2 separate regions of the Homo sapiens genome follow, and region 1 is linked to region 2. Evidence: fine-mapped expression QTL. A gene starts in region 2. The other region holds a variant in brackets. All regions are shown on one strand. Distances are from middle to middle. Region 1 holds the start of LOC124904880 (a long non-coding RNA gene). Region 2 holds the start of CFAP61 (cilia and flagella associated protein 61).

The links. PIP is the estimated chance that this variant, and not a neighbour inherited with it, causes the effect.
Region 1: its variant is the best candidate, but not a certain one, in a credible set for the expression of CFAP61 in prefrontal cortex (GTEx, PIP 0.89).

The regions. Positions count from the first base shown.
Region 1 is chr20:20,090,017-20,107,011 of GRCh38, reverse strand. It overlaps CFAP61 (cilia and flagella associated protein 61), which reads right to left. Exons shown (of 27, transcript NM_015585.4): 7 at 16,036-16,168; 8 at 8,198-8,357. It overlaps LOC124904880 (a long non-coding RNA gene), which reads left to right and starts at 11,257. Exons shown (of 2, transcript XR_007067553.1): 1 at 11,257-11,425; 2 at 12,249-12,568. RefSeq lists an enhancer at 266-830. The variant T/C (reference allele first, on the strand shown) is at 8,156.
Region 2 is chr20:20,048,261-20,056,349 of GRCh38, reverse strand. CFAP61 (cilia and flagella associated protein 61) reads right to left here and starts at 3,818. Exons shown (of 27, transcript NM_015585.4): 1 at 3,759-3,818. It overlaps CRNKL1 (crooked neck pre-mRNA splicing factor 1), which reads left to right and starts at 3,884. Exons shown (of 14, transcript NM_001278628.2): 1 at 3,884-4,058; 2 at 5,728-5,880; 3 at 6,919-7,010; 4 at 7,849-8,007. The coding sequence starts at 4,008. RefSeq lists a silencer at 3,410-3,459 and enhancers at 3,550-3,849, 3,860-4,029.

The DNA.
Region 1 (16,995 bases), 46 kb before region 2:
AAACACCCAGTTGGGATGAAAATCCCTTGAATCACCCCTATCACCGTGTTTTCTAGCAACTAACTGCTGACTCCATATAGCGTAATAGCCAAATTACTATAATTATCCTGCAACACAAGTGGCATATCAACATTATTTTAAACACGGATTTTTTTTGCATAATCTTTCGTTATTATCTTTCAGCCTTCCATCTGAAAATGGAAAACAACAACAAACTGTGATCTACCCCAACAGGAAAAAGGTCACCAGAGAGAACAAATAAAAGGGTTATTTACATGTGAATGTACTGAGATGTGTTTTACAGTCAAATACACTCTTGAACTTCATTAAATGCCTTCTCCCCTGCTTCATAAATATGGGCAAAAGAGACATCCCCTACTGAGAAAATAATCCCAGCACATAATGATCATAACGAATATAAATAAAGCCACTTTTCTTCTGAAGACCTCCAGGCCCCATACAAAAATGCGCTTGTATTTCCACCATTGTGAAATGAATCTGACTGTTGGAGAACAAGGCTGTGATATCACAGGTCGCTCCCAGGGCTGAAGAGGAAAGGAGGAATGCAGATCTCAGTCATGTTGCTGTCTGCAAAATAATAGATTCTTAAGTGGTTGCCATCCTTTGATGCTATGGTTGTTTTTGAAGACATTAGAAAAGGCTTAGAAATCAGCTTTGGAATTAAGATGGAGAATTGACAACAGGTTTTATGAAATAACCAAAAGGCTCACCAAGATGGCTTTGGGGTCATGTCCCTGACAACAAGTTCTGGGCTTCAGGTCTGGATTACAGTCTTCCTGGTATCCTACCAGTCCAGGGGCTCTGCCCTGAAAGCCCTGAAAGAGTCTAAACTCTCAACATTGGAGATGCCTGGGTATAGGTCTGGTATGATTTATTTGTTTTATCAACATCTCTTGCAAAGCTTTAGAATTAACAAAGTAGATTCTAGAAAATCAAATTTTATATATATATATATATATATATATATATATATATATATATATATATATAGGCAAGAGTAGCTAAAGCTTTCGAAGATGTTGCCTTCATATGCTAAAGACATTCAGTGGCTTAAAAAAATGAAATTCATCATGCCTGTAATCCCAGCACTTTGGGAGGCTGAGGTGGGCGGATCACAAGGTCAGGAGATCGAGACCATCCTGGCTAACACAGTGAAACCCCATCTCTACTAAAAAAAAAAAACTCAAAAAAATTAGCCGGGCATGGTGGCAGGCGCCTGTAGTCCCAGCTACTCGGGAGGCTGAGGCAGGAGAATGGTGTGAACCTGGGAGGCGGAGCTTTCAGTGAGCCGAGATTGCACCACTGCACTCCAGCCTGGGCGACAGAGCGAGACTCCGTCTCAAAACAATAAAAATAAATAAATAAATAATTCAAATTTTAACAAGTATAAGTTAGTATATTAGGGCTATGTATGAACATTAAGTAAAGCCGACTTTGCTGCCACTGTCTGCATTACTATCAGAGCCTTGAGTACAGGCATCAAAGAACCACACCACAGGATCTAGGAGAAGGAAAGAAAAGGGGAGGAGGGAGAACTGAGATGCTCAAAGCCCAGATCACAATGAGAAAATGGCAAATTTGGTGGCAACTGCTACCAAGTGAGTAATATTGCTGTGTGGCCACTGAGTGAGAGCTATAATGGGCCCCAGAACTCACCCTAGCCTCCTGGGAAGTGGAGGTGACCAGGGCACAGAAGCCTGTAAGAACAGAACTCCTCTCCTAGGGGGATCTGAAACCCATGCCAGGAACAATGAGAAGCCCATTGGTGGGACACAGGGACTTTCCTCGGGCACAGAAGGTTGGGTGGGTGCGGCTTACATCCAGCCAGGGGAAGAACATGGGCTTATGAGAGGATGTAGACATCCAAACATTCCCCACCCTGAACACATACCGCCCCCCTATTAGGGACCAGAGGAAGGCAGTACGATACCATAGAGCCTCTCCTGGGCTGTAGTGTGCCTCCTCCCACCCCCAAAACTCGTACACTGAAGGCTTAACCCCTAGTACCTCAGAATGGGACTGTATTTGCAGACAGTCTTTAAAGAGGTAACTGAGTTAAAGTTACAGGTGAGCCCTAATGCATTGTGACTGGTGTCCTTATAAAAAGAAAAACCAAAAACACTGATGGGCACAGAGGGAAGACCCTGTGAAGACATGGGGAGAAGATGGCCGTCTACAAGTCAAGGAGGGAGGCCTCAAAAGAAACTGACCCCTCCAACATCTTGACTTCTGGCCTCACAAATGTGAGAAAATCAATTTCTGTTTTTTAAGCCACCCAGTCTGTGGCACTTTGTTATGGCAGCCCTGGCAGACTAAGTCCTGGTGGGTCACTGGTTAACTACAGAATGAACTGACTGTTAAAAACAAGGTTCCGAGATCTGTAATGTAAAGACGGCAGCAGAAATCCTAACACACCCTGTAGATACGTGCTCCAGTCCTGTTTGGAATCCATGTTAAAAGAAGAATAAAGTAAAATAGAAGGGAATCCAGGAATATAAAATGGAACCTTAGGAAGAGAGGCGAAAAGACCTGGGATGATTTAATACACAATCAATAAGACTTAATGTAGCCATTGTTTTTTAGCTCCGACACAGGGAGAGTGGGTCTAGGTGTTTCCTAACCCAAGAGATGAGGGAATCTGAGATAAGAAGCAAATGTGAGTTCAATAAAACAAGACATAAAATTGAAATAAGACATATAAAGACATTTCCTGACAGCAGGAGTAATTTAAAAAAAAAAAGTTAAAGGCAATATTGCGATGTTTTACGTGGAGACATTACAAAAATTCTATTTTGAAGGGTCTTTTATATGTATAGTGAGCAACAGTTTTCCTGGATGACTTGGTGACAAGGGGCTACACTAGTTATTCTTTTGAATGCCCATAACTCTATTATGTAAAGTGAAATCTCTCCCTGCCAAGGAGCACATCAAGTTCTGCAGAGACTTTGTAAGGTGGGCCCTGGGTATATAATGAGATTTACAAATCGGAACCTTGCAGGAGTCTTTTAAAACAGAGATTCATGCTGCCCAGATCTCAACGGCCTACATGAGGAACAAAAGTTTTGTTTTTTGCTTGTTTTTATTTTTTTATTTTAACTATTAAATGCGGCAATGCCAGTACAGCTGTGGAAATGCAGGTTGTGCCCTATTTTGCCTTATGCATTATCAAGAAAATTGCCAGCTCAAGCTTGATTCCAAAATATTTATTGGGTGATGCAGCTAACAAAAGACACAGCTTGATTTGCAAACACCAGGCAGGGCCAGTGCTGCGGCCAACTGGAAAAAATATTGTTTTGAACCATTTTATTGTCACTGAAGGAAAATATTCATAAAGTGCCAGGCATATGGAACATCTTGATATGTATTCAATAAGTTTTTTTTAGCATTTAAGGGGATCTTACATCTCATTCAGTATAATCTTCCACACAAGCAGAAAGCCCTTTGTAAGTGTGTATGACTGTTTCTTTATGAATTCTTCCAATATTCTGGGAACTTGCTACTTCCACACTAGGTCCTCCATTAAATAAAAAAAATACACTTCTACTAGTTTTTCCTTATGCTTGGACAAAATTTACATCCTTAGAACCTATTCCCATTGGTCCCAGTTTACTCCCAATGTTTAGTACATAAAAACCAAAGTTTACAAGTATGTAATAGGTTATACATGCAAAATGGGTAGCTATGAAAACATACACAAATTATTCAGGTAAAACACAAATTGATTGTACACAGTTAAACATTTTAGATTCAGGGAAACTTTTTTTTTAAGGTAGAACCTAGCATTTTATTTAGATCTTCATTAAACTGTTGGAATTGAGAACATACTTAATAAACCTCCAAAAATAGATCCTGAAAAGCACTTTCTGCTCAGGACAAGCAGTCATGGAATAAGCACATAAACAAGCTGGCTTCTCTGCACCACACCAGCCAAGTCAGCTTTCTCCATGGTCAGCCACACCAGCTCTGCCCTCCTTTCTGTTAACACCAGCCAGACCTCCAGGGAAACTTTTGATAAGGCTGAGATGATGAAGGACAGTAAGCTAATTACCATGTGTATTAGGAGCTAGAAAAAGGAGGGCCTCTGGATTCATTTAAGAATGCTGAGTCTTGACATTATTCTGCTTGAAAGGGTTGAGGTTGGTGTGAAATTGCAAGTTTTCACAGCTGGCAGGGAAAGATCAGATCTTGAGAGAAGAGCTTGAGAATAAGCAGTTTATTTTGGAGGTGGTTCCAGGATGTACCAGTAGGAGAGTGAGGAAAGAGACAGGGAAGGAAAGGCAACTAATAAAATGTGTGTTGTCCATGGACACATAAAGGGGAACAACACACACTGGGGCCTTTTGAGGGTGGAGGGTGGGAGGAGGGAGAGGATCAGGAAAAGTAACTAATGGGTACTAGGCTTAATACCTGGGTGATGCCATAATCTGTACAACAAACCCACATGACACAAGTTTACCTATGTAACAAACCTTCTCATGTACCCCTGAACTTAAAAGTTAAAAAACAACAACACATGTGTTATCACCCAGATTACTATTATGGACAACTGAAACTTAATCCCTTGGGGGAACTCTGGGAAACCAGCCAATACTCACATATCTGAGTCCTCCCACCTGAGGAGTGAGGGAGCTGGGGTATTTATACTCTCACCCAAGTCAGCTGTGTATAAATAAATGCTTTCACAGCTGGTAGGAAAAGACCTAACTAGTAGTGTCTTGGTCTCACTTGCCTCAGAGGCAAATCTTAAGTTAAAGATTCAGTTACAACCATTTATTTGGGAGTCAATGGAGAAAGCACCAGCAGGGAAGCTGGGATGTGACATAGGGAAACAGAGTCTATTCCTTGAGTGATAATTTCCTGACACTTCCAGCCTGACCCCTGCATAGGTCAGAGTGGCCTTTCACAGTTTTAAAAAAGCCTGCAGACACAGAGGTGAAGATTCCAGCAGATAGGAGTTGTTTGGAGCACACACATACAAAATAAAAGTCGGAGGGATATGGGCAGGTCACTGATCACCCACTGAAGTGATCATTCATTAAATAACTTATTAAAGTGAAAAAACTGGCCGGGCATGGTGGCTTACTCCTGTAATCCCAGCACTTTGGGAAGCCGAGGTGGGCGGATCACCTGAGGCCCGGAGTTCAAGACCAGCCTGGCCAACATGATGAACTCTGTCTCTACTAAAAATACAAAAAAAATTAGCTGGGTGTGGTGGCACACACATGTAATCTCAGCTACTGGGGAGGCTGAGGCAGGAGACTCACCTGAACCCGGGAGGCAGAGGTTGCAATGAGCTGAGATTGCACCACTGTACTCCAACCTGGGTGACAGAGGGGGGCCTTCATCTCAAAAAAATAACAATAATAAAAATAAAAAATAAAAATAAAGTGAAAAAACTCATCATGTATCTTGTGTAGCAGACCCGTCATTGGAGTTTTCTGTCAAAACCATCCAAGATAAGACGTTACCTTGCCAAGACTATCATCATGCACGAAAGCAGAGAGAGGCTGGGTCTGCCTTCTGGGTCAGCCACTGATGAGCTTTAAAAGCTTGGATGAGCTTTAGCAAGTAAAAAATGGAGAGAACCTCACCTTCCCTAGCTCTCCTACACCAAGTTATAGGATAACATGAGATTACATATATAAAAATCCTTTGAAATGGAAAAAAGCACTAAACAAAATACAAGATATGAGACACAGTGATGTGTGCTCATTTGAAACAAGAATTTTAGTTCATATTTTAGAGAAATTATATTTCCTTTAACTTGAGACTTTCATCAGGAAAGGAAAGTAACAGATCACAGTACATTTAGAATTTTCTCTGGAGCCTCATTCTTTGTTGTTGTTGATAGGAAGATGGCAGCAAAATGTGCTGATGACTCTTTTCTTAGATATAATGAGCTGTTGATGATTTGTGACTCAATCCCTGGAAGTTATGTGGAAGTCTACAATGCCAGCTCCCTGGTGAAAATTTCATAAGGAATCATCTTTGTGTCAATGAACATAAAGCTGACTTTCAAAAATAAACAAGGCACAGAAGATAAGTTTTCCTATTTCTTTTACTTACCATCTGTCCTAGATTGACTTATTTTAGGTAAAAATATTGAAGGAGGTAAACAGAAGTAGGACTTCTTTTAGTGCCCATATCTCTGTGGGCTCTTGCTAGAGATATACTAGCTTACGTATGTTTTTAAGTCCAGGGTTCAGTTTAAATTTTGAATTTCACTGCCCCATAAAGTTTCTAAGGAATTTTCCATTCATTCTATGTAGGAAACAGTAGCATCAGAGCCACTCAGAAACACACTGGAAGGGACTACATCTTTTCAACTTGTTCTTCATTACAACAGCCACAGGGGAAAAAATATTTTTAAATGTTCAGGACTTACTTTGTGTTTGGCGCTGAGCTAAGCACAACACATAGATTCTAACATTTAATTGTCCCCTCAATTCTTTGGGTTAGATACTATTTTTATCTCCATTTTACATGTGAGAATATTCAGCCATAAAAAGGCTATTTAGGGCCAAGTGCAGTGGCTCACACCTGTAATCCCAGCACTTTGGGAGGCTGAGGCAGGTAAATCACCTGAGGTCAGGAGTTCAAGACCAGCCTGGCCAACATGGTGAAACCCTGTGTCTACTAAAAATACAAAAATTAGCTGGGCGTGGTGGCGCACACCTGTAATCCCAGCTACTCCAGAGGCTGAGACAGGAGAATCACTTGAACCCTGGAGGCAGAGGTTGCAGTGAGCCAAGATCACACCATTGCACTCCAGCCTGGGTGACAAGAGTTAAATTCCATCTCAAAAAAAAAAAAAGGCCATTTAGTGCTGCTTTCAAAGAAGAATTTAAGCATTGGAAAATAACAATGACAACTTATGGTTCCAGACTGTCTCACACTGATAAGTTCCCTCAGAACTCTCCTATGGTAGAGTTCTTCTCTGGGAAGCATGGCAAGCAAGGCTTCACTATTAAACAATAAGGACCCCAAATCTCTTTTGGGGAGGGTGTTGTTATCATCAGCACAAAAGGGAAACTCCTCTATCTGTGGCTTTGCAGGTTCTCTGTGATAAGTGTGTATGTTCAGATGAGGTCTAGACACTGTGCACGGGGTTTATGCATTCAGGGGATAAGCTTAGCCAAGTCACTGCCTTCTGTTGTCTAGATTGGCAAGTCCTTTGCCACCAGCCAAGTGCTCCTTTCCCCATTTCTGAACAATCTTGGTGTAATCTTTCAGACAGGAGAAAGCATAGCAATTTGAAATACCCTGATTTTACCCTAGGAAGATTCAAGTTGGTGGAAGGCCGACACAAAGAAAAAATAATTGCTAACGGTGATGATCAACATTTATTGAGTGTTGACTGTGCAAAGCACTCTACATGGCTTATCTCAGTGAAACTTCACAACCCCCCCCCCGTGTGGGAGGTATTACTATTATGCCCATTTTACAAATGAAGAAATCCAGCTTTGGAGAAGTGAATTGATGTACCCATGGTAACTTGCCTGTCTGCATCTGTCTTCTGTAAGAACCCAAATATGTAACCGCAAAGATACCCATGGATACAGTAAGACCTCACTAAATTAAAACATCAAAGTTTGAGGTTACCTAATTGAACGTGGTGAAAATCTTGATACAGACAATATTTTAAAATTGATGGTATTATTTCATATAACTAGAAGTAACTTAAGCAAGTTAAAAATGACTACTTGCAACAGACCTATACTACATAATGATTTGTCAAAGACAAAAACAGAAGCACTGAAAGTTGGGATTAAAACTTAAAAGCATAAAAAATTTCCTGAGTTCTTGATTTGAAAAATTCACTTGTTGTATTTGGTTGTGTGTGTGTGTGTGTGTGTGTGTGTGAAACCTGAAACACCAGTAATTATTTCATCATAACTTACATGTACTCTAGCAATGAACATTCAAGAAGTGAGCATCCTGAATGTGGGAGCCCTAAGGCCCCAAGTCCACTATGTCTAACTCCACCCCTGCACTGTGACTATCTGTGCTTGTAGGTATTTCACAAGGATGTGACCAACCATGGGAACTACTCCTTAAGGGGAACTGGGGAAGGAAATATAAAGCATCCTATCTAGTTCCATCACTTAGCGAAGAGCGCAATGTGTATAAAGCA[T/C]AGATTTAATTTCCCAGTGTGTCCCTGTGATAGCCACTGTACCTTGACTTCTTCGGACACTTAGGTCTTGTGGTGATTCCAGAACGTCATCAGGATGTGGGAAACAGAGTCCGTGGAAAGGGCCCAAGTCAAAGCACTCATGCAGCAGTTGCATGTTCACTCTTGAGCACACACTCATGAACCCAACAGCTGTGCCTTCCACCTGAAATATCCAAAACACCTCATTATTCTTTTTTTTTTTTTTTTTTTGAGACAAAGTCTCGCTCTGTCACCCAGGCTGGAGTGCAGTGGTGTATCTTGGCTCACCGCAACCTCCGCCTCCTCAGTTCAAGCAATTCTTCTCCCCAGCCTCCCGCAGAGCTGGGACTGCAGGCGCCCGCCACCACACCCAGCTAATTTTTGCATTTTTAGTAGAGACGGAGTTTCACCATGTTGGCCAGGCTGGTCTTGAACTCCTGACCTCAAGTGATCCACCCACCTCGGCCTCCCAAAGTGCTGGGATTACAGGCATGAGCCACCACACCCAGTCCAAAACACTTCATTACTTTATCAGAGGTCAAATGATTCTCATCAGGAAACCTCCAGAGCCCTCAGAATGTGGTCGGCTGGTGGTTTGGCAGTCACCTTGAGATTTAAGGGAGGAATAAGTGTCTTCCTTCAGTACATAAAACATGCTCAAAAAATGTCCCAATAAGTGACCACTGGGGACACACCTAGTGGTGCATAAGTAACAGGGAAATTGCCAGAGTTCTTGACCCTTCAACCATTGGAACACTTGCCCTCTGCTCAGACCATGCTCCTGCCTGCTCCATATCCTCTGCCATTTGGTGTCTTGTGTTTGTACCCCACCATAAGCCTGGCGCTCCTGTCTACTTTCTTTCCCTCTGCCATGCACACTTCTCAGGAATACAGGTCATTGTTCCAGTGCCCATCTGATCAGCCCCCAGTACAGAGAAAGTTCACGGTCCCTAGCTCCTTATCAGGTAGAAACTCTTCAATTTGTCTTGAAGTCACTTATTTATTAACTGGATAGTCTGATAGGGAGGAGATATGAGGGAAGGAAGTTTGGTGGAAAATGTTCCAGTGAAGTAAACTTGAGTCAGGCTAGGCTGGTTCACCAGGTGGGTCTGATCTGCAAATGTTGAACTTCCCATCACCCTGAAATGCCTGGTTCTGAAGCTCTTGCAGTCGTCCCCATGATTTTCAGTCTTTGATGAGTAATACATAGGCGAGAAGATGAGTAACTAGCTGATCTGAACCTTGGTTGGGTACCAGGTACCTGATTGGTACCAAAACATTAGAAATTAACAACAGACTTTAATTCTATCATATTCCACATGGAGAGACGGCTGTGACTGAAACTCCTTAATATATCCCTTAAGTAATTCTGTATTTCATTGTTTTCTGCAAGGAAAGTATTTAAAATTTAAAAAGAGAGAGAAAATACATAGTCCTTTAAATTTCACATAAAATAATTATTAGTAGATTTTAAGCAAATTCTGGTTGACTGATTAGACTCTGATAGCTCTTATTAGAAACCTGCATTTACTGGGTCCTATCTCTCAAGTGTTCAGACTTTTAGATAACCATTGCATTCAGAAAGTAGCAGAACTCAATAATCACAGGCATTCTCTATTCCCAAGAACGCAGCATCTTTCCATAAATGCCCAGTCAGAGAAAATGCTTTAATCTCCTAAAACAGAGAATCGGGCTACAATAATACTCAGTTTTTTAAATGACACCAAAAAAAAAAAAAAAAATAGGTATTAAACTACTATTTGTTCTCGAATATGTCTCCCAGTTAAAAATCATTTGTTCTCAAACGTGTTTGCAAAATAAAAGTGAGACCTCCTCTATTTTCTTCTCAATACTGAAATATGAGGGGAATTTTTAAAAATTAATTTTTTCATGTATATTCCTTTCTTTACAGGCCCCCTAAAATGATACTTGCTGAAAAAGCCTGGATTTACACAGCTGTTTTATAAAGCCATTGACACTTTAATAAAAGTCCAAAATAAACATTTTAATTTTTTTCCCAAATAACAAGTGATTGTTTGTCTTGTTTGCACTCGTGAACAAAGGCTGCATAGCCGCAGTTGTCTAGCTTCTCTGTAATTTCAGGCCCAAGACTCAGCAGACGCTGATTAACCAATCCATCTACCATATGTGCAGAAAGAGACGGCCAGCCTGACTCTCGGCAGGGAAAATTGGCATCCATCTTGGTTCACATGGAGATGTCCTTCTAATCTACAGCCGCGCTGGCGCAACAAAACTTCGATGGCCTGAAATACCTTTTGCTGGCTTCACAGCGAGCTGCATGTGTATGATAAGAATGTATTATTTATAAGACCGCTGTTAGTAATGAGCTATTACACTAATGGCTCATTGTGTTTGGAATTTGATTTCAAATGGCATGGATCACACATTCTGATGAAAATGAGAAAAACATGTTTTGCCATTAGGAACAAAGATTTAACGTTCTCCAATTCTACAACCTGTTATATTCCCATCATTCATCCAGGGTTGTAACAATTTACAAAAGTTCACAATTACAGACTACAACAGAGCAAGGACATATTGTGGAAGTGTCTGCTTTTTCCTTTGAGTTTCTTTCAAATAACCGATTTGAGAAACACTATTCTTAAATATGAATTTGCAGGAGTATCCAAATGTATTCTTGTGTATGCACTGAAAAAAAAATGGATTTAATGGACTTTTTAACTTGTACAACAGAAAGGCATTGATTGCTGGCTGTTATCTATCTTCCTGGTGACAGAAGTACTTTTCACCACAAGTGTCTTCAATTATCTTATACTGGAGAACAAAACTGAAGGTTTTGTTGTTCTTGCTTGTCCTGTAAATATCTACATCATGACACATAAGGTTTAGATTGCTAGAAAACTATGTGTACTGTGGCCTTGTCTTCCCAAACAGGTCCATTTACAGAAACGTGTGTATTTTCTCATTTATGCTTCCATCCAAAAAGCCCTACAGCCACCCATCCCTTTTGGGTGACAATATTCCACTGTGAGGGTTTTGCCCTCATTGTGACCACTGCTGGCTCTGATCCTCTCCTCCTGATGCCAAGCGCATGGCTGACCTGGCAGGCTTTCCCTGCCTGCAGGTCAGTGGTGCCTACTCGGACCACTGCTGCCCACACCCTGGATGATGCCAAAGCAGACGCTCTGCCCATCTGTCACTAGGAGCCGCCGCTGGCCTCCAACTACCCTTCCCTAAAACCTCAGCTTGGAGTAAACACCAGATGTCAAGGTAAGCCAGGGTACAGTTATGACAAGGAACTTGTATGAAGTGATGGCCCCAAACTCCTCCAAACTAGCTATCAAGCCAAAGAAAGTCCTTGTAACTAAAAACCCTTTCAGTAGTAAGGGTTTCCCACAGGGCACAGCCTTGCCCTCAGGCATGCTGCATGCCTGGCCTGGAACTGCCATGGCTGTTCAGAAAGACAAACTTGATGGACTTCTTTCTGTTTCCTCTGGTTGACAGTGGTTGCCTTAAAGTAACGTGTGCCTGTAAATGCCTAATCAGCATTTGCGGGGGAAAAGCCCAGATCTGTAGCATTTGCCGATTTCTGAGGTGTAAGCGCTGTCATCATGGTCAATGTCAAGTGAACAGTGTGATCTCACTAAACATGTAGTTGGGAGGGAATGCGCAGTAGCTAGCCATTATTTCTTATATCTACTGTATAGAGACCCAGACATTTAAAAAAAAACCCTCAAGAACATGGAGAATAGTAAAAAAAAATGGAAGGTGATGAATTTCAAGTATTTATTAACTTTGTTTTAATATAATTTATTACACTGTAGGTTTCTATAATTTAATTTTTAATAATAGCTGTGTTTAACAAGCAGTTTGCAGAGTTCCTGAGGATTTAACAATCAGCCCTTGAGAGCCAGAGCAAGCTGGCTCCAGCACACCATTGCCTAAAAGCCCCCTAGGGAGGCAGGAAAAAGGGTAGCAACAGCATTGATCTTGAACCCCAAAAGGCTTCAGACATCAGACATGGCTCACTTCAGATTAGACGTCCCCTCCCAGATCCCGGCTCACAGTCTTGTTTCTGCCCTTCCATTTTAAGATCGAGGTCTGTGGTCTCCCCTCCACAGAACACAAAGCCTCTGATGCTTGAGGCAGCACGGCCTCTGGAAGGAGATGGGGCTGGATGCCCTCTGCCTCTTTCGAGACACCAAAGGATTCTTGCAGGGTTGGAACTGCAGTTTTCAGCCTACAGCTTTGCTCTGATGTTTACACACACTGAAAGTGTGAAACATACGGCAAGAGAGAGAAAGAACGTGGGGGAAGAGGTCACTGCAGCTTCTCTACAAAGCACTGACTCAAGTGATTCAGAGTAAAACTAGTACCTTGGAACCAAATAATTAAAAGCCTTCCAAAAACAAAGACCCTGATTAAACCTGATAAGTAAAGTTTGGTCATGAAAATCCTTATTGGGGTCTGTATGAATCATTTCACTTCTCAGGAGTTTCTGTCTAGTTGTGTAAAGACAAGCTTTCCAAATGGTACTGCTGGGCCCAAATGCTTCCAACCCTCCCTTCTATGGCTAGCCTGGTAGCCTGGGGCTAATGGCTAAACAAGAATACGTGAAAGCGGGTCTTTGAGAAACCATGCCAAAACCTAAATATAAGAAAATAAAATAAACATTTAAAAAATAAATAAAAATCCTTTCAATGTAGTACTTCAGAATCTAATTTCCAGGGGCCAATTGTCACCTTCAGAAACTAATACCCACATCTCTATAAAGTCATGTCATTCTCACCAGGTATGTTTTACCCTCATGTAGATGAGTGTTTCACCACCTGGACTGCACCTTGGAATCATCTGGGGAGATCTTTAAAAATCCAGATTGAGGTCAGGCATGGTGGCTCATGCCTGTAACCGTAGCACTTTGGGAGGCTGAGGCAGGAGGACTGCAGTTTAAGAAAAGCCTGGGCAACATAGTGAGTGTCCAAAATTAAAAATAAATATATGGATTGTGTCTCACCCCCAAAAGATTGACTTAATTGGCCTGAGTGTACCCCTGCAACAGGATTTTTAAAAATGGATATAATTGATATAATTCACCTACCATAAAAACAACCCTTCAAGAAGTACACAATTCATGCCTGGTGCAGTGGCTCACACCTGTAATTCCAACACTTTGGGAGGCAGATCACTTGAGGCCAAGAGTTTGAGACCAGCCTGGTCAACATGGCAAAACCCCATCTCTACTAAAAATACAAAAATTAGCCTGGTGTGGTGGCACATGCATGTAATCCCAGCTACTTGGGAGGCTGAGGCAGGAGAATCACTTGAACCCGGGAGGTGGAGGTTGCAGTCAGCCAAGATCACATCACTGCACTCCAGCCTGGGCAACAGAGCAAGACTCTGTCTCAAAAAAAAAAAAAAAAAAGAAATACACAATTCAATGGTTTTTAATATATTCACAAAATTGTACACCCATCACCACTGTCTAATCCCAGAACATTTTCATCCCCCCACCAACCAACGACTATGCCCAATATTAGTCACTTCTCCTTCCCCTTTCCCTCCAGTCACTAATCTACCTTCTGTCTCTACAGAAGTGTCTATTCTAGGCTTTCATCTAAATGCCATCATACAATACGTGGTCTTTATGACTGACTTCTTTTCTTTAGCATCATGTTTTCAAGGTTCATACACGCTGTAGCATGTATCAGTGCTTCGTTCTCTTTTATTTCCTGGTACTATTCCCTTGTGTGGATATACCACATCTTGTTTATCTATTCATCAGTAGATAGACATTTGGGCTGTCTCCACTTTTTGGCTATTATGAATAATGCTGCTATGAACATTTGCGTACACATCTCTGTGTGGACATGTGTTTTCAATTCTGTGTATGGAATTGCTGGGTCAAATGTTTAACTTTTGGAGAAAATACCAGACTTTTTCCAAAATGGCCACAGCATTTTATATTCCTACCAGCAATGGATGAGGCTTCCAATTTCTCCACATCCTTGCCAACATCTGCTATTGTCCTGCTTTTTTATTATAACCCTCCTAGCAGAGGTAAAGTGGTATCTTAGTGTGGTTTTGATTTGCCTTTCCTTAATGACTAATGATGTTGAATGTCTTTTCATGTGCTTATTGGCCAGTTGTATCTTTTATTTATTCATTTTTTTTAAAAGTGTCTATTCGAATCATTTGCCCACATTTTATGTGGATTATTTTTCTATTGTTGTGAGAGTTCTTTGTATATATTCTGGATCCAAGTCATTGGCATGGTATGGATAGTTAAAAGCCTCCCAGGTGATCTGCATATATGCCAAGTTTGAGAACCACTGATGTAGAACAAAGCCTCAAACTGCTCATGTCATCCAAGTAAGAGAACTTTTCATTCCAAGTTTCAAGAAAAGTAATATTCTTTAAACAGCTCTTACAGTTTTAACAAATAATGAGAAATGAGTAGATGAAGAATCATGAATTAGAGGGTGTGGGCTGCCTTTTGGGCCCAATAGGCTGGGCCTTCTGATTTGTTTAGAAAAGCTAGAAATTCCAATTTTTACATAGACTTTCATAATTTTTACAATAGCTGCTAATTCAAAAATATTTAATCATATATAACTTGAATCAAATCATGAGAAAACATTGTACAAATCCAAATGGAGACATTCTACAAAATAACTGACCTGTACTATTCAAAACTGTAATTGTCATGGAAGATAAAGACGGATCGGAGAATTGTTCCAGATTTAAAAAGGCTGAAGAAACAGAGCACCTGAATGCAATGAATGGCCTGGAATTACCTCTGCCATAAAGGACATTCCTGGGACTGTCAGAAAAATCTGAATGAAGTCTGTAGATTAGATAAAAGAATTGCAGGAACTAGCTGGGCACGGTGGCTCACGCCTGTAATCCCAGCACTTTGGGAGGCCAAGGCGGGCGGATCACCTGAGGTCAGGAGTTCACCTCAGGTCAGCCTGGCCAACATGGTGAAACCCCGTCTCTACTAAAAATACAAAAGTTAGCTGGGCGTGGTGGCGCACACCTGTAATCCCAGCTACTAGGGAGGCTGAGGCAGGAGAATTGCTTGAACCCGAGAGGCGGAGGTTGCAGTGAGCCGAGATCATGACAGTGCACTCCAGTCTGGGTGACAGAGCAAGGCTCCATCTCAAAAAATAATAATAATAATAATAATTACAGGAATCATAATTACTTGGCTTTGATCATTGTATTGCAGTTATCTAAGAGAGTGTCCTTGTTTTTAGGAAATATACATTGAAATACTTACAGGTAAAGGGGCATTATGTATGCAACTTACTCTCAAATGGTTCAGAATATACATGAGAGAGAGAGAGAGAGCCAGCAAGAGAGAAAAAGAGAGAGAGAGAGGGAATTAGAAAGGTTGAACAAGAGAATGATAAAACAAATGGGGTTGGATGTTAACATTTGGGGAATCTGGGTAGTTATAAACTTTCTTTAAGTGTGAAACTATGTCAAAACAAAAAGTTAAAAAAAATACCTTTCCAACTCAAACAAAATCCATCTGCCAGCAGAACGCTGGTTTGTGACTTCTGAAGTCTGAGATTTGGGGATCCTCAGAAATCCCCCTACGCACCCCTGGGGGGTCTTTTCCATTCCCTCTCACTCTAGGGACAAGGCAAGAATCTACAGCATCGTGGGCATCTGGAAGGACCTCGCAAAAGACAACCTAAAGCCAGTAACCCAGGGGAGGAAGCTGGCCTGGTGCACCACCTGGAAGGGCAGTGGGAGGGCCGGGGTGGCCAGGGAGACAATGGCAGCTCCAGGGGTGCCCAGCAACGCAAGAGCAACACCACTCACATCCCTCCTTCCTCTCACTAAGTGTGTTCCCACATGAATCAGTCACTGACCTCACACACAACAGCATGATTCTCTTCATCTTGGGCCTCTATTAGTTCGGCCAGGAAGTATTCACCGTAAGTTTCCTTCAGAATTGTGTCATAGCGCATAAATATTGGCATGAGATCGTCATGGTCTTCCACCCTGTTTAATAGAAAGGCTGAAGTTCAGTGTTCGTTCACTCATTTTTTTCCTTCAACAGGGCACCAACTGTGTGCCAGACCCTGTTCTAAGTGCCGGGGCTAGAGCAACACTCATGATATCAACTTTCCTTCTTTTTTTTTTTTTTTTTTTTTTTTGAGAGGGAGTCTCACTCTGTTGCCAGACTGGAATGCAGTGGCGTGATCTCGGCTCATTGCAACCTCTGCTTCCCGGGTTCAAGCGATTCTCCTGCCTCAGCCTCCCGAGTAGGTGGGACTATAGGCATGCACCACCACGCCCAGCTAATTTTTGTATTTTTAGTAGAGATAGGGTTTCACCATGTTGGCCAGGATGGTTTCTATCTCTTGACCTCATGATCTGCCTGCCTCGGCCTCCCAGAGTGCTGGGATTACAAATGTGAGCTGCCACGCCTGGCCTGAACTTTCCTTCTAATAGGAGAAACAGACAATAAAGATGTAACCAATTTAGACAATTCTAAACATTTCAAATAATGATACATGCTTTGGGATAGAGAGTGAGAGGGTCAAGTGGTCAGGGAGGACCTCTATGAGGAGGGTCATCTGAGCTGAGAGCTGAATGAACAGAAAGGGAAGAAGCTATGTTGAAACCTAGAAGTGGAACATTGCAGGCAGAGGGAACACAGTTGGCATGTGTGGGTGTGGGATGCAGGGAAGCACTTGTCATGGGCCAAAGGACAAGAGACTAGGGGCAGCACTTCCCAAGGATGTTCTAAGAAACACCACTATGATATTGTCCCGAGCATCCTCTCAGCCCAAAGAATTCCAATGCCTAAAAACAGTAACCACTAT
Region 2 (8,089 bases):
ATTGGAAAAACATTGAAAGGAATTATTTACGGATTCAGGGTCCTCTTATATTTAATCGGCCACGATGGCATGTGGTGAAGAGTTACTGGGGAAATACTGACAGCTGCTGCCTATGTTCTTAATAGAGTTCTCCAAACTGGAGCCCTGAAGGTCAGCAGTCTTGAGACATATTTTGAGACCAAAAAAGTTCTGTGGTTAAGTGTAGGAAATGCTCGCAATAGGCTTCCTGAAGGGCCACCAGGCCCATTAACATCTTTGAGAGGTTCCATAATAAAGCAACTTGTTTTCTTTGTATAACCCAGCCTTTCCGACACTCTTTGGGAAGAGAATCTCTAATGACGGCAACAGTGGAGAACCTAACGTTCCAGAAGGACACTTTGGGAAATGCTGTTGACAAAAACAGTAGGTCACAAAATGATTTCAATTTCTCTCTCATTGTCTCAATTTCTGTAAGTCTCTCTTCTCTCTTTCCCTCCCTTCTTTCCTTCATAGGGAAAGCCATTTTATTATATACTAGCCAGTGAGCTCAAAACAGGGAAAACAATGAAGGAGAAATTAATAATGTCTAGACTCCTATCGAAGCTAACCATAAATATTGTCATTCCTTGTTCTGGTTTTAAATTGAAAGCAAAATTGGAATGAGACATCTTGTTTGTGAAACATATCATAAACTAATGCTACAAGTATATAAAAATTCTGAATAAAATAAGGAAGTATAATTAATTAGATAACTGACTTTGGTAAAAAGAAAACAAGAAAAGAAGAAAGAAAGCGAGCGAGGGAAATTCTCCAACCAGGTGGCAATGATGTGAGCCGATCTGACACAGGTTTTGGGGATAGAATGGACCTCACTCCAAACAGAGAATTAAAAATTAAACCATGCATCTACCTGGGACTTTGGATGGGCCCCTCGGTAAGTGAGGGGGCTAGAAAAATTAAACTCACCAGCCCAAGAAAGTGACAAGCTTTCTCTACACAAAGCTCTAGGTAGAAAATAAAGCAAAAATACTGCTGAGAAGTCCAAATTCTAGACTAAAGTGGGTATGGCATTCTAGTCCACACAATCTGTGTATTATGGGAGTCACCAAGAACTTTAGATGATAGACTCTGAAACAGACTACAAACTAAGTATGTTTATAATAAAGAAATATAGAAAGAGAAACAAAAGTCATGAGAAGAGAACAGGTCATTATTTAAAAAAGAACAGAAACTTAAAAAATGAAATACGTGGTTATTAAAATTTAAACTAAGAGGATGGGTTAAAAACAGAAGAATAAAGAAAATAAACTGGAAGATACTTATGAACAAATTATCTAGAAAGAAGCACATAGAAACAGAAAATACAGAATTCAGTAAAGACACATGTAAGACAGAATGAAAAACATCTGTCTTATGGGAATTCCAAAAGGAATAAATGAAACATTTGAAAATAATGGCTAATTACTTTTAGCATGGATGAAAGACATGAACCTTCAGTTCAGAGCAAAAAATACAAATAAACTCCAAATATATAGTAAAACTACAAAACCCTAAAGACAAACAGAAAACTTTAAAGGAACCTGACAAAAGACAGACTGTCTATAAAAAATAATTAGACTGACAGAATATTTCTCATGAGCAACATTAGAAGCCAGTAGCACGGGGGTTAGCAAACTTCTGTAAAAGGCCAGAGAATAAATACATTAAGCTTTATGAGCCACATGTTGTCTACACAACTAGTCAACTCTGCCATTGTAGCACAGTAACAACCAGAGACAATATCGGCACAAATGAGCATGAATGTATTCCCACAAAATTTTACTTACATACACTGAAAGTTGACTTATGTATAATTTTCATGTGCCATGTAATTTTTAAAAAATGTTTAAAATGTAAACTACATATAAAGTTTAATGTAAAATGTGTGTGTGTATATGTGTATGTATGTGTGTGTGTATATATATATATATATATCCCTAGCTCATTCACAGTCCATACAAAATAGTCAATGGGCTGAATTTAGTCTACGGCCCATAGTTTTCTAACTACTAGAATAGTGTTTTAAAAATATAAAAGGAAAAAATAACCATTAACCTAGACTGATAAACCTAAACAATCACTTTAAAATGAAGATAAAATAAAGACAATTTCATACAAAGACTGAAAGAATTCAAAGAATCTTGTAGAAAGAACTAGGAGATGGTATATTCTGAGAAGAATAAAATCAGAAAGAAGTGGAATACAAGATTAAATGCTGGGAAATAAGAAGGTAAACATGAAGGTATATCTACAAAAGCATTGATGGCAAAAAGTAAGAAGGATAATACATTTTTCCTAAAAAAAAAAAAAAAAAAAAACAAACAAAAAAAACACACACAGAGATGAACTGAATTGCCAGACAACAGAAATGTAAGAGAGAAGGATGGTGATCAGAAGCAAAGTATTCTAGCATGTTTGTACTTTTGAGCAAAGGCAACAGATGATTAAACCAATGATTCATTTGGTAAATCAATTGTTTACAGTAACACATTTAAGGAAAATCACTTCAAAGAAACATCTTTTTAATATTTATTTATTTTGTTAGGTGGCTTTATGAAAGTGATATAAAATCTTCTCTATTTAAATTTTGAAAAGTGAGATAAAATATCTAAATAATATGGTTAATAAAGAGTTATGGCAAATACATTGATGTTGGTTATAACTGACTGCAGTTCTAGAAATCTGCATAAATCTTTTGTTGAAAGTAATATCTGCATTGGTAGACGTGATATTACTACATACATAAATATATATTTTCCCCAAACACCAAAAGAGCTTTGCAACTGTGGAAATTATCCTAACAAATGAGCTGCCAAGTCATGTCATTATACATTTGTCCAACCTCATAGAATGTACACCAAGAGTGAACCCTAATATAAACTATGAACTTTGGGTGATAATGATGTGTCAATGTAGGTTCAAGATTGTAACAAATGTACTGCTCTGGTGGAGGATATTTTTAAGAGTTGGAGGCTGTTAGAGGAGGGAAGAGGTACAATAATTGATAGCAGGAAGCTGTGGAGGGAGGAAATCTCTGTGTCTTCCACTTAATTTTGTTGTGAACCTAAAACTTCTCTAAAAATGTCTATTAAAAAAAATTCTCTTAACCTTTGCTTTTCAGTTTTTGAGGGCAGGTTAAGTATTATAACAGCTAACATCTACTGAGCATTTGTCTTTAATCCTAGTGAAACAGATGTTATTAGCCTTGTTTTATAGTTGAGGACATTGAGGCTAAGAAAATTTAACTAGAGTAATTAAGGCACACACAGAATTTAAACATGTTTCTTATCACAAGACTGAGTTGTTTTCCAGTTACTCTATTTATATTTTTTCCTAATATCTGGCTTCAAAGTACCTTCTGTTATTTTTAATTCCAAGCCTTAGAGTTAATTATTTGGGCACCTTAGAATTATTTGGGCACAACTGTCCCGAAACCAGAAACGAGGGGGCGTGGACCCAGAGACTACTAGAATGCAATGCTCGAGGCATTGCAGCCTAAAAGGGCGGCAGCTCGCCCCGTCGCATGCTGGGAATGGTAGTTTCCTCGCTCTCCCTTCTTCCCCCGCCCTCGAGCATCCAGATTGGAGCTCCGTTCTTACTCCCTTGCAGGGCGCCACGGCTCGACAGAGCCACTCGTCCTCGCCTGGTCATCCCAGTTCCGGAGGCTGACCTGGGGATGCGCCCTGGACGCCCTGCACCGCAGTCCTTGCGTCGCTGCTAGTCAGCACGGCGTTACCCACCTCATCCGCAGCTCCAGGACGCCGCACTCCACGCGCTGCCGCAAGGAGGACGCGCAGCCTGGTCACCATGGAAACGGTGCCGCCTCCGTCACGGCTCAAGCGAGAGGTCAAAGGTCAGTCCTGCAAGTTCCGCTTCCGGTTCCGAGATCCTGTTTGTTTTCTGAAAGCTTTGTGGTTTCGGTGAGCTCTCAGAGCCGATTTCTAGCGTCCGTGCCGGGGACAGGTGTCCAGAGGTCGACTGCTGCAGACATGGCGGCCTCCACCGCGGCCGGGAAGCAGCGGATTCCCAAAGTGGCCAAGGTAGGCGATCGCGAGGGGCCTTGTAGGAGGTGGCCTAGGAAAGGGGCATCCCTCAGCCCTGAGGGTGCCCGGGTTGGGAGAGAGTGTTCCCGCCGGGGAGAAGGCTCACCCTGAGAGATGGAGAGGAAGGGCAGCTGGTGGTGGGGCGCGGGCTCTTGTCATCGCGGAGCACGACCCGCGTTGGCGTGGCCTTCGTTCTGGGGTGGTTTTGCTGGGGAGTGGAGTGGGGTGGTTCGGTGAAGATTTACTGAGCCAGGCACTGCACTGGGCGCTGGGAAGCTACGCTCGTACGCTGGCCACAAGCAGTACTCAAAACACGAGTTTCTGTATAAAGACGACCTTGCTAGATGTTACCGAGAGGCAAAGTAGAATATGCCATGGGCGTGAATAAGGGGGTCGTATGAAGGGGTCCTGAAAGTAAATTTTGCTGAGGAAATGACCTTTAAGCTGAGACTTGAAGGCTGAATAGGAGTTAGCCCAGCTGACAGCGGAGGGCGAGAGTAGACGGTAGGAGTAGTATAGTATCATAAGTTAATTAAACAGTAGACTTACTATCTGGTATTTCCTTTGATAGCTAATACTTACCAAGTGCTTAATATGTGGCAGACTTTGAAGCCTTTACAGATACCCTCCCTCCAGTCTTTCTTGAGCCCGGATGACTCTCTTGAACTGGACCTTTACATAACTATTTGTCTGACTCGCAGGAGTAATGCATATAGAGCAAGTAACACTGTGTCTGGCACTTAGTGCTTATTAAATATGAGCTATCACCATTATCATCATTACTCCACATGTGGCATTAAGTAACATTTTTTATAATTCAGCTACATAAACTTTTATTGGGCATCACTGGTCCAATGGAAATATAATGCACACCACATATGAAATTTTAAATTTTCTCATATCTACATTAAAAAGTAAAAACAAAGCAAAAAAGTGAAATTAATTTTGATAATATATATTTTATTTGAGCTAATGTATCCAAAATATTATCATTTCAACATGTAATCGGTATAAAAAATGTAATGAGGTAGTTTATTCTTTTTTATACTTCATCTTCAAAACCAATGTGTATTTTACACTTACAGTCCACCTCAATTTGTACTCACCACATGTGACTCATAGCTACTGTGTTGGACAGCACAGCTCTAAGCTACGTTAGACTGTAAGCTTCTAAGACCTCAAGAAGCTTACAGTCTAATGATGAGAACTTACTGAAATTGCCTTTGACTTGAAGTGCCATGTAAAACCAAACCCAGTTATACACCGGGGCATTAAATAAGTTGAAGAATTCTGTAAATGCAGGTTGTAATGCTGTTAATAAGATGTGCTACACATTTTGATAAAACAAAACCTCTGGTCAGAATTTTACCTAGACGGCCTCAAAGTTTATTATTATACTCATCTAAAAGGGAAAACTTGCTATTATTTTTGCCACCTTTTTCTCTTGAGACTTTTACCTATGGCTTTGCAGTAGATACTATGAATAAGAGAGAAAACGGTATTTTTTTTTTCTTTTCAGTCTCATGGAGGAATGGGAACATGTCATACAAAAAGGGCATCTTGTGATAATACTAACAAAGTTCATATCCTAAAAAATGTATGTTTGTTTCTTAAGCCTTGTGTGAAGAGCAACTACTAAAAATAGAAATGTCTTCTTTCTTAAAAGGTGAAAAACAAAGCCCCGGCTGAGGTACAGATAACTGCTGAACAACTCTTAAGAGAGGCTAAAGAAAGAGAACTTGAGCTTCTTCCACCTCCACCTCAACAGAAGATCACAGATGAAGAAGAATTAAATGATTATAAACTAAGGAAAAGGAAGGTCAGTCAGTGTGGTATCTTTCAGTCCACTAATTGTTAAGACTGTATCGGTCAGTTTGAAAAGCTCCTCATTGGTTGGATTCTGTAGGGCAAGATGAGGTTAAGTGTTTCCAGACGCATGAATAATGTACTTCTGGTTACCAGATAACAGCATTTTTCTGAACTATATAAAATATGCCATGAGTTGTCTGGTTAAAGTGTAAAGAAATTGAATCTGCATAATTTTTGATGCTGAATCAAAGTGAGCGGAAGTTTAGCAGATGGAACAACTGACAACAAGAAGGAGGGTATGCTTAGTAAGGCTGCACTGTGTACTTCTGTCTATACCACCTTCTGTGTTAAGAATTGAGATCTGGCTGGGCACAGTGGCTCGCGCCTGTAATCCCAACACTTTGGGAGGCCGAGGCGGGCAGATCACCTGAGGTCAGGAGTTTGAGACCAGCCTAGCCAACATGGTGAAACCCCATCTCTACTAAAATACAAAAATTAGCCAGGCGTGGTGGCAGGTGCCTGTAATCCCAGCTATTCGGGAGGCTGAGACATGAGAATCACAGCAACTCGGGAGGCAGAGGCTGCAGTGAGCCGAGATCGTGCCACTGCACTCCAGCCTGGGCGACAGAGCAAGACTTTGTCTCAAAAAAAAAAAAAGAAAGAAAGAAAGAAAGGAAAAGGAATTGAGGTCTGCAAAAGGACCATGAGAAGACTTTGGGATCTGATTTGACCTCTTCACTCTAGAATGTGGGACTGTTTTAAAGCACTAATGCTGTTATATATGAAATTCTGAGAATTACCAGAGGACTTAAAGGTAATAGTCAAAAACATTTTTTATTAGGGACAAGCATAGACCATTTTAAAGTATCAGTTAGTTGACTGTAACCTTCTGTAGTGGGTTTCTTATTCCTCAAGGATTCCAGGATGTAATTTCTCTTAAATATGAACAAAATGAATAACCATTTTAGTACAAGACTTAAAATAGACCAAGGGTGCTGTCATTTTTAGTCATTTGTCTTTTGACTTGACCCTTTTTGCCTTCTTCCAGACTTTTGAAGATAATATAAGAAAAAACAGGACTGTGATTAGTAACTGGATAAAATACGCACAATGGGAAGAAAGCCTAAAGGAGATTCAAAGGTAAAATTACTGAGAGTGTAGTTTTGTATATAATGATTCATAGATTAACAGATACCAAAAAGAAAAGAAGAAAAAGTTAAAGCACAGGTAAAAGATTGTGCCTCGGGTAGAAATTTTCAACTTTGGTTCCATGGAACCCTAGGGTTCCCTTGAGGGCCTCAGGAGTACTGGGGTAGAATAGTCCTGGGGAGGGTGGCAGAAGAGGCTTTAGAGATAGATCTTGTCAGTTGTAGCTAAAGAAGCACAATTTCATTTGCTTTGTATATATTGAGATTTTTACAAATTTCAGCTAAACAATGGCCAAAAAAAATAAAACCAATGGCCAAAAAAAATAAAAATTGCAATCTGGCCCTTCCTGTGGTCTAGCTTTCTGCATTCTCCCCGCATACCTCCTTCCCCCACTGTGCCTGTGTATGTGCCACTCCCTGAATATATCATGTCTCCTTATCGTGAGGCTTGACTGTTCTCCTTGCCTGGAATGAGCACCCCCTCCTCACCAAACTTAGTTTCCTGGTAAATCGGAACGTTCCTCAAGTTCTCATTTCTACAATTACCTACTACTTAGCCTTTTCCACCAAACATTTTCATTTCTTCCTCTCTGTTTCCCGTGCAGATCTTGACTATAACATAAATCACATTGCATTATAATTGCATGCATGTCTTTTTATAAGACTTTGTAAGGTACTTGAGAGCATTATATCTTTTCATTTTTTTATGCCCAGAACTTGGCTCATGGTAGACACCTAATAAAACATCAGTGCATTCCAGATAGTTTGAAATAACTGCTACATGTGTTGAATGCTCTATTTTTGATGCCCTGCAAATCTTGCTTCTTAAGGGCTCGATCCATATACGAGCGTGCTTTAGATGTAGACTACCGAAATATTACACTCTGGCTGAAATACGCAGAAATGGAAATGAAGAATCGCCAAGTCAACCATGCTCGAAATATCTGGGACCGGGCCATAACAACGCTGCCTCGAGTTAATCAGTTCTGGTAAGTTTCTGATCTAACAAAACAGCCTTTTATAGACTAGCAAAGTTCCACATCTTCTGTATTTATTTTATTTACATGATGA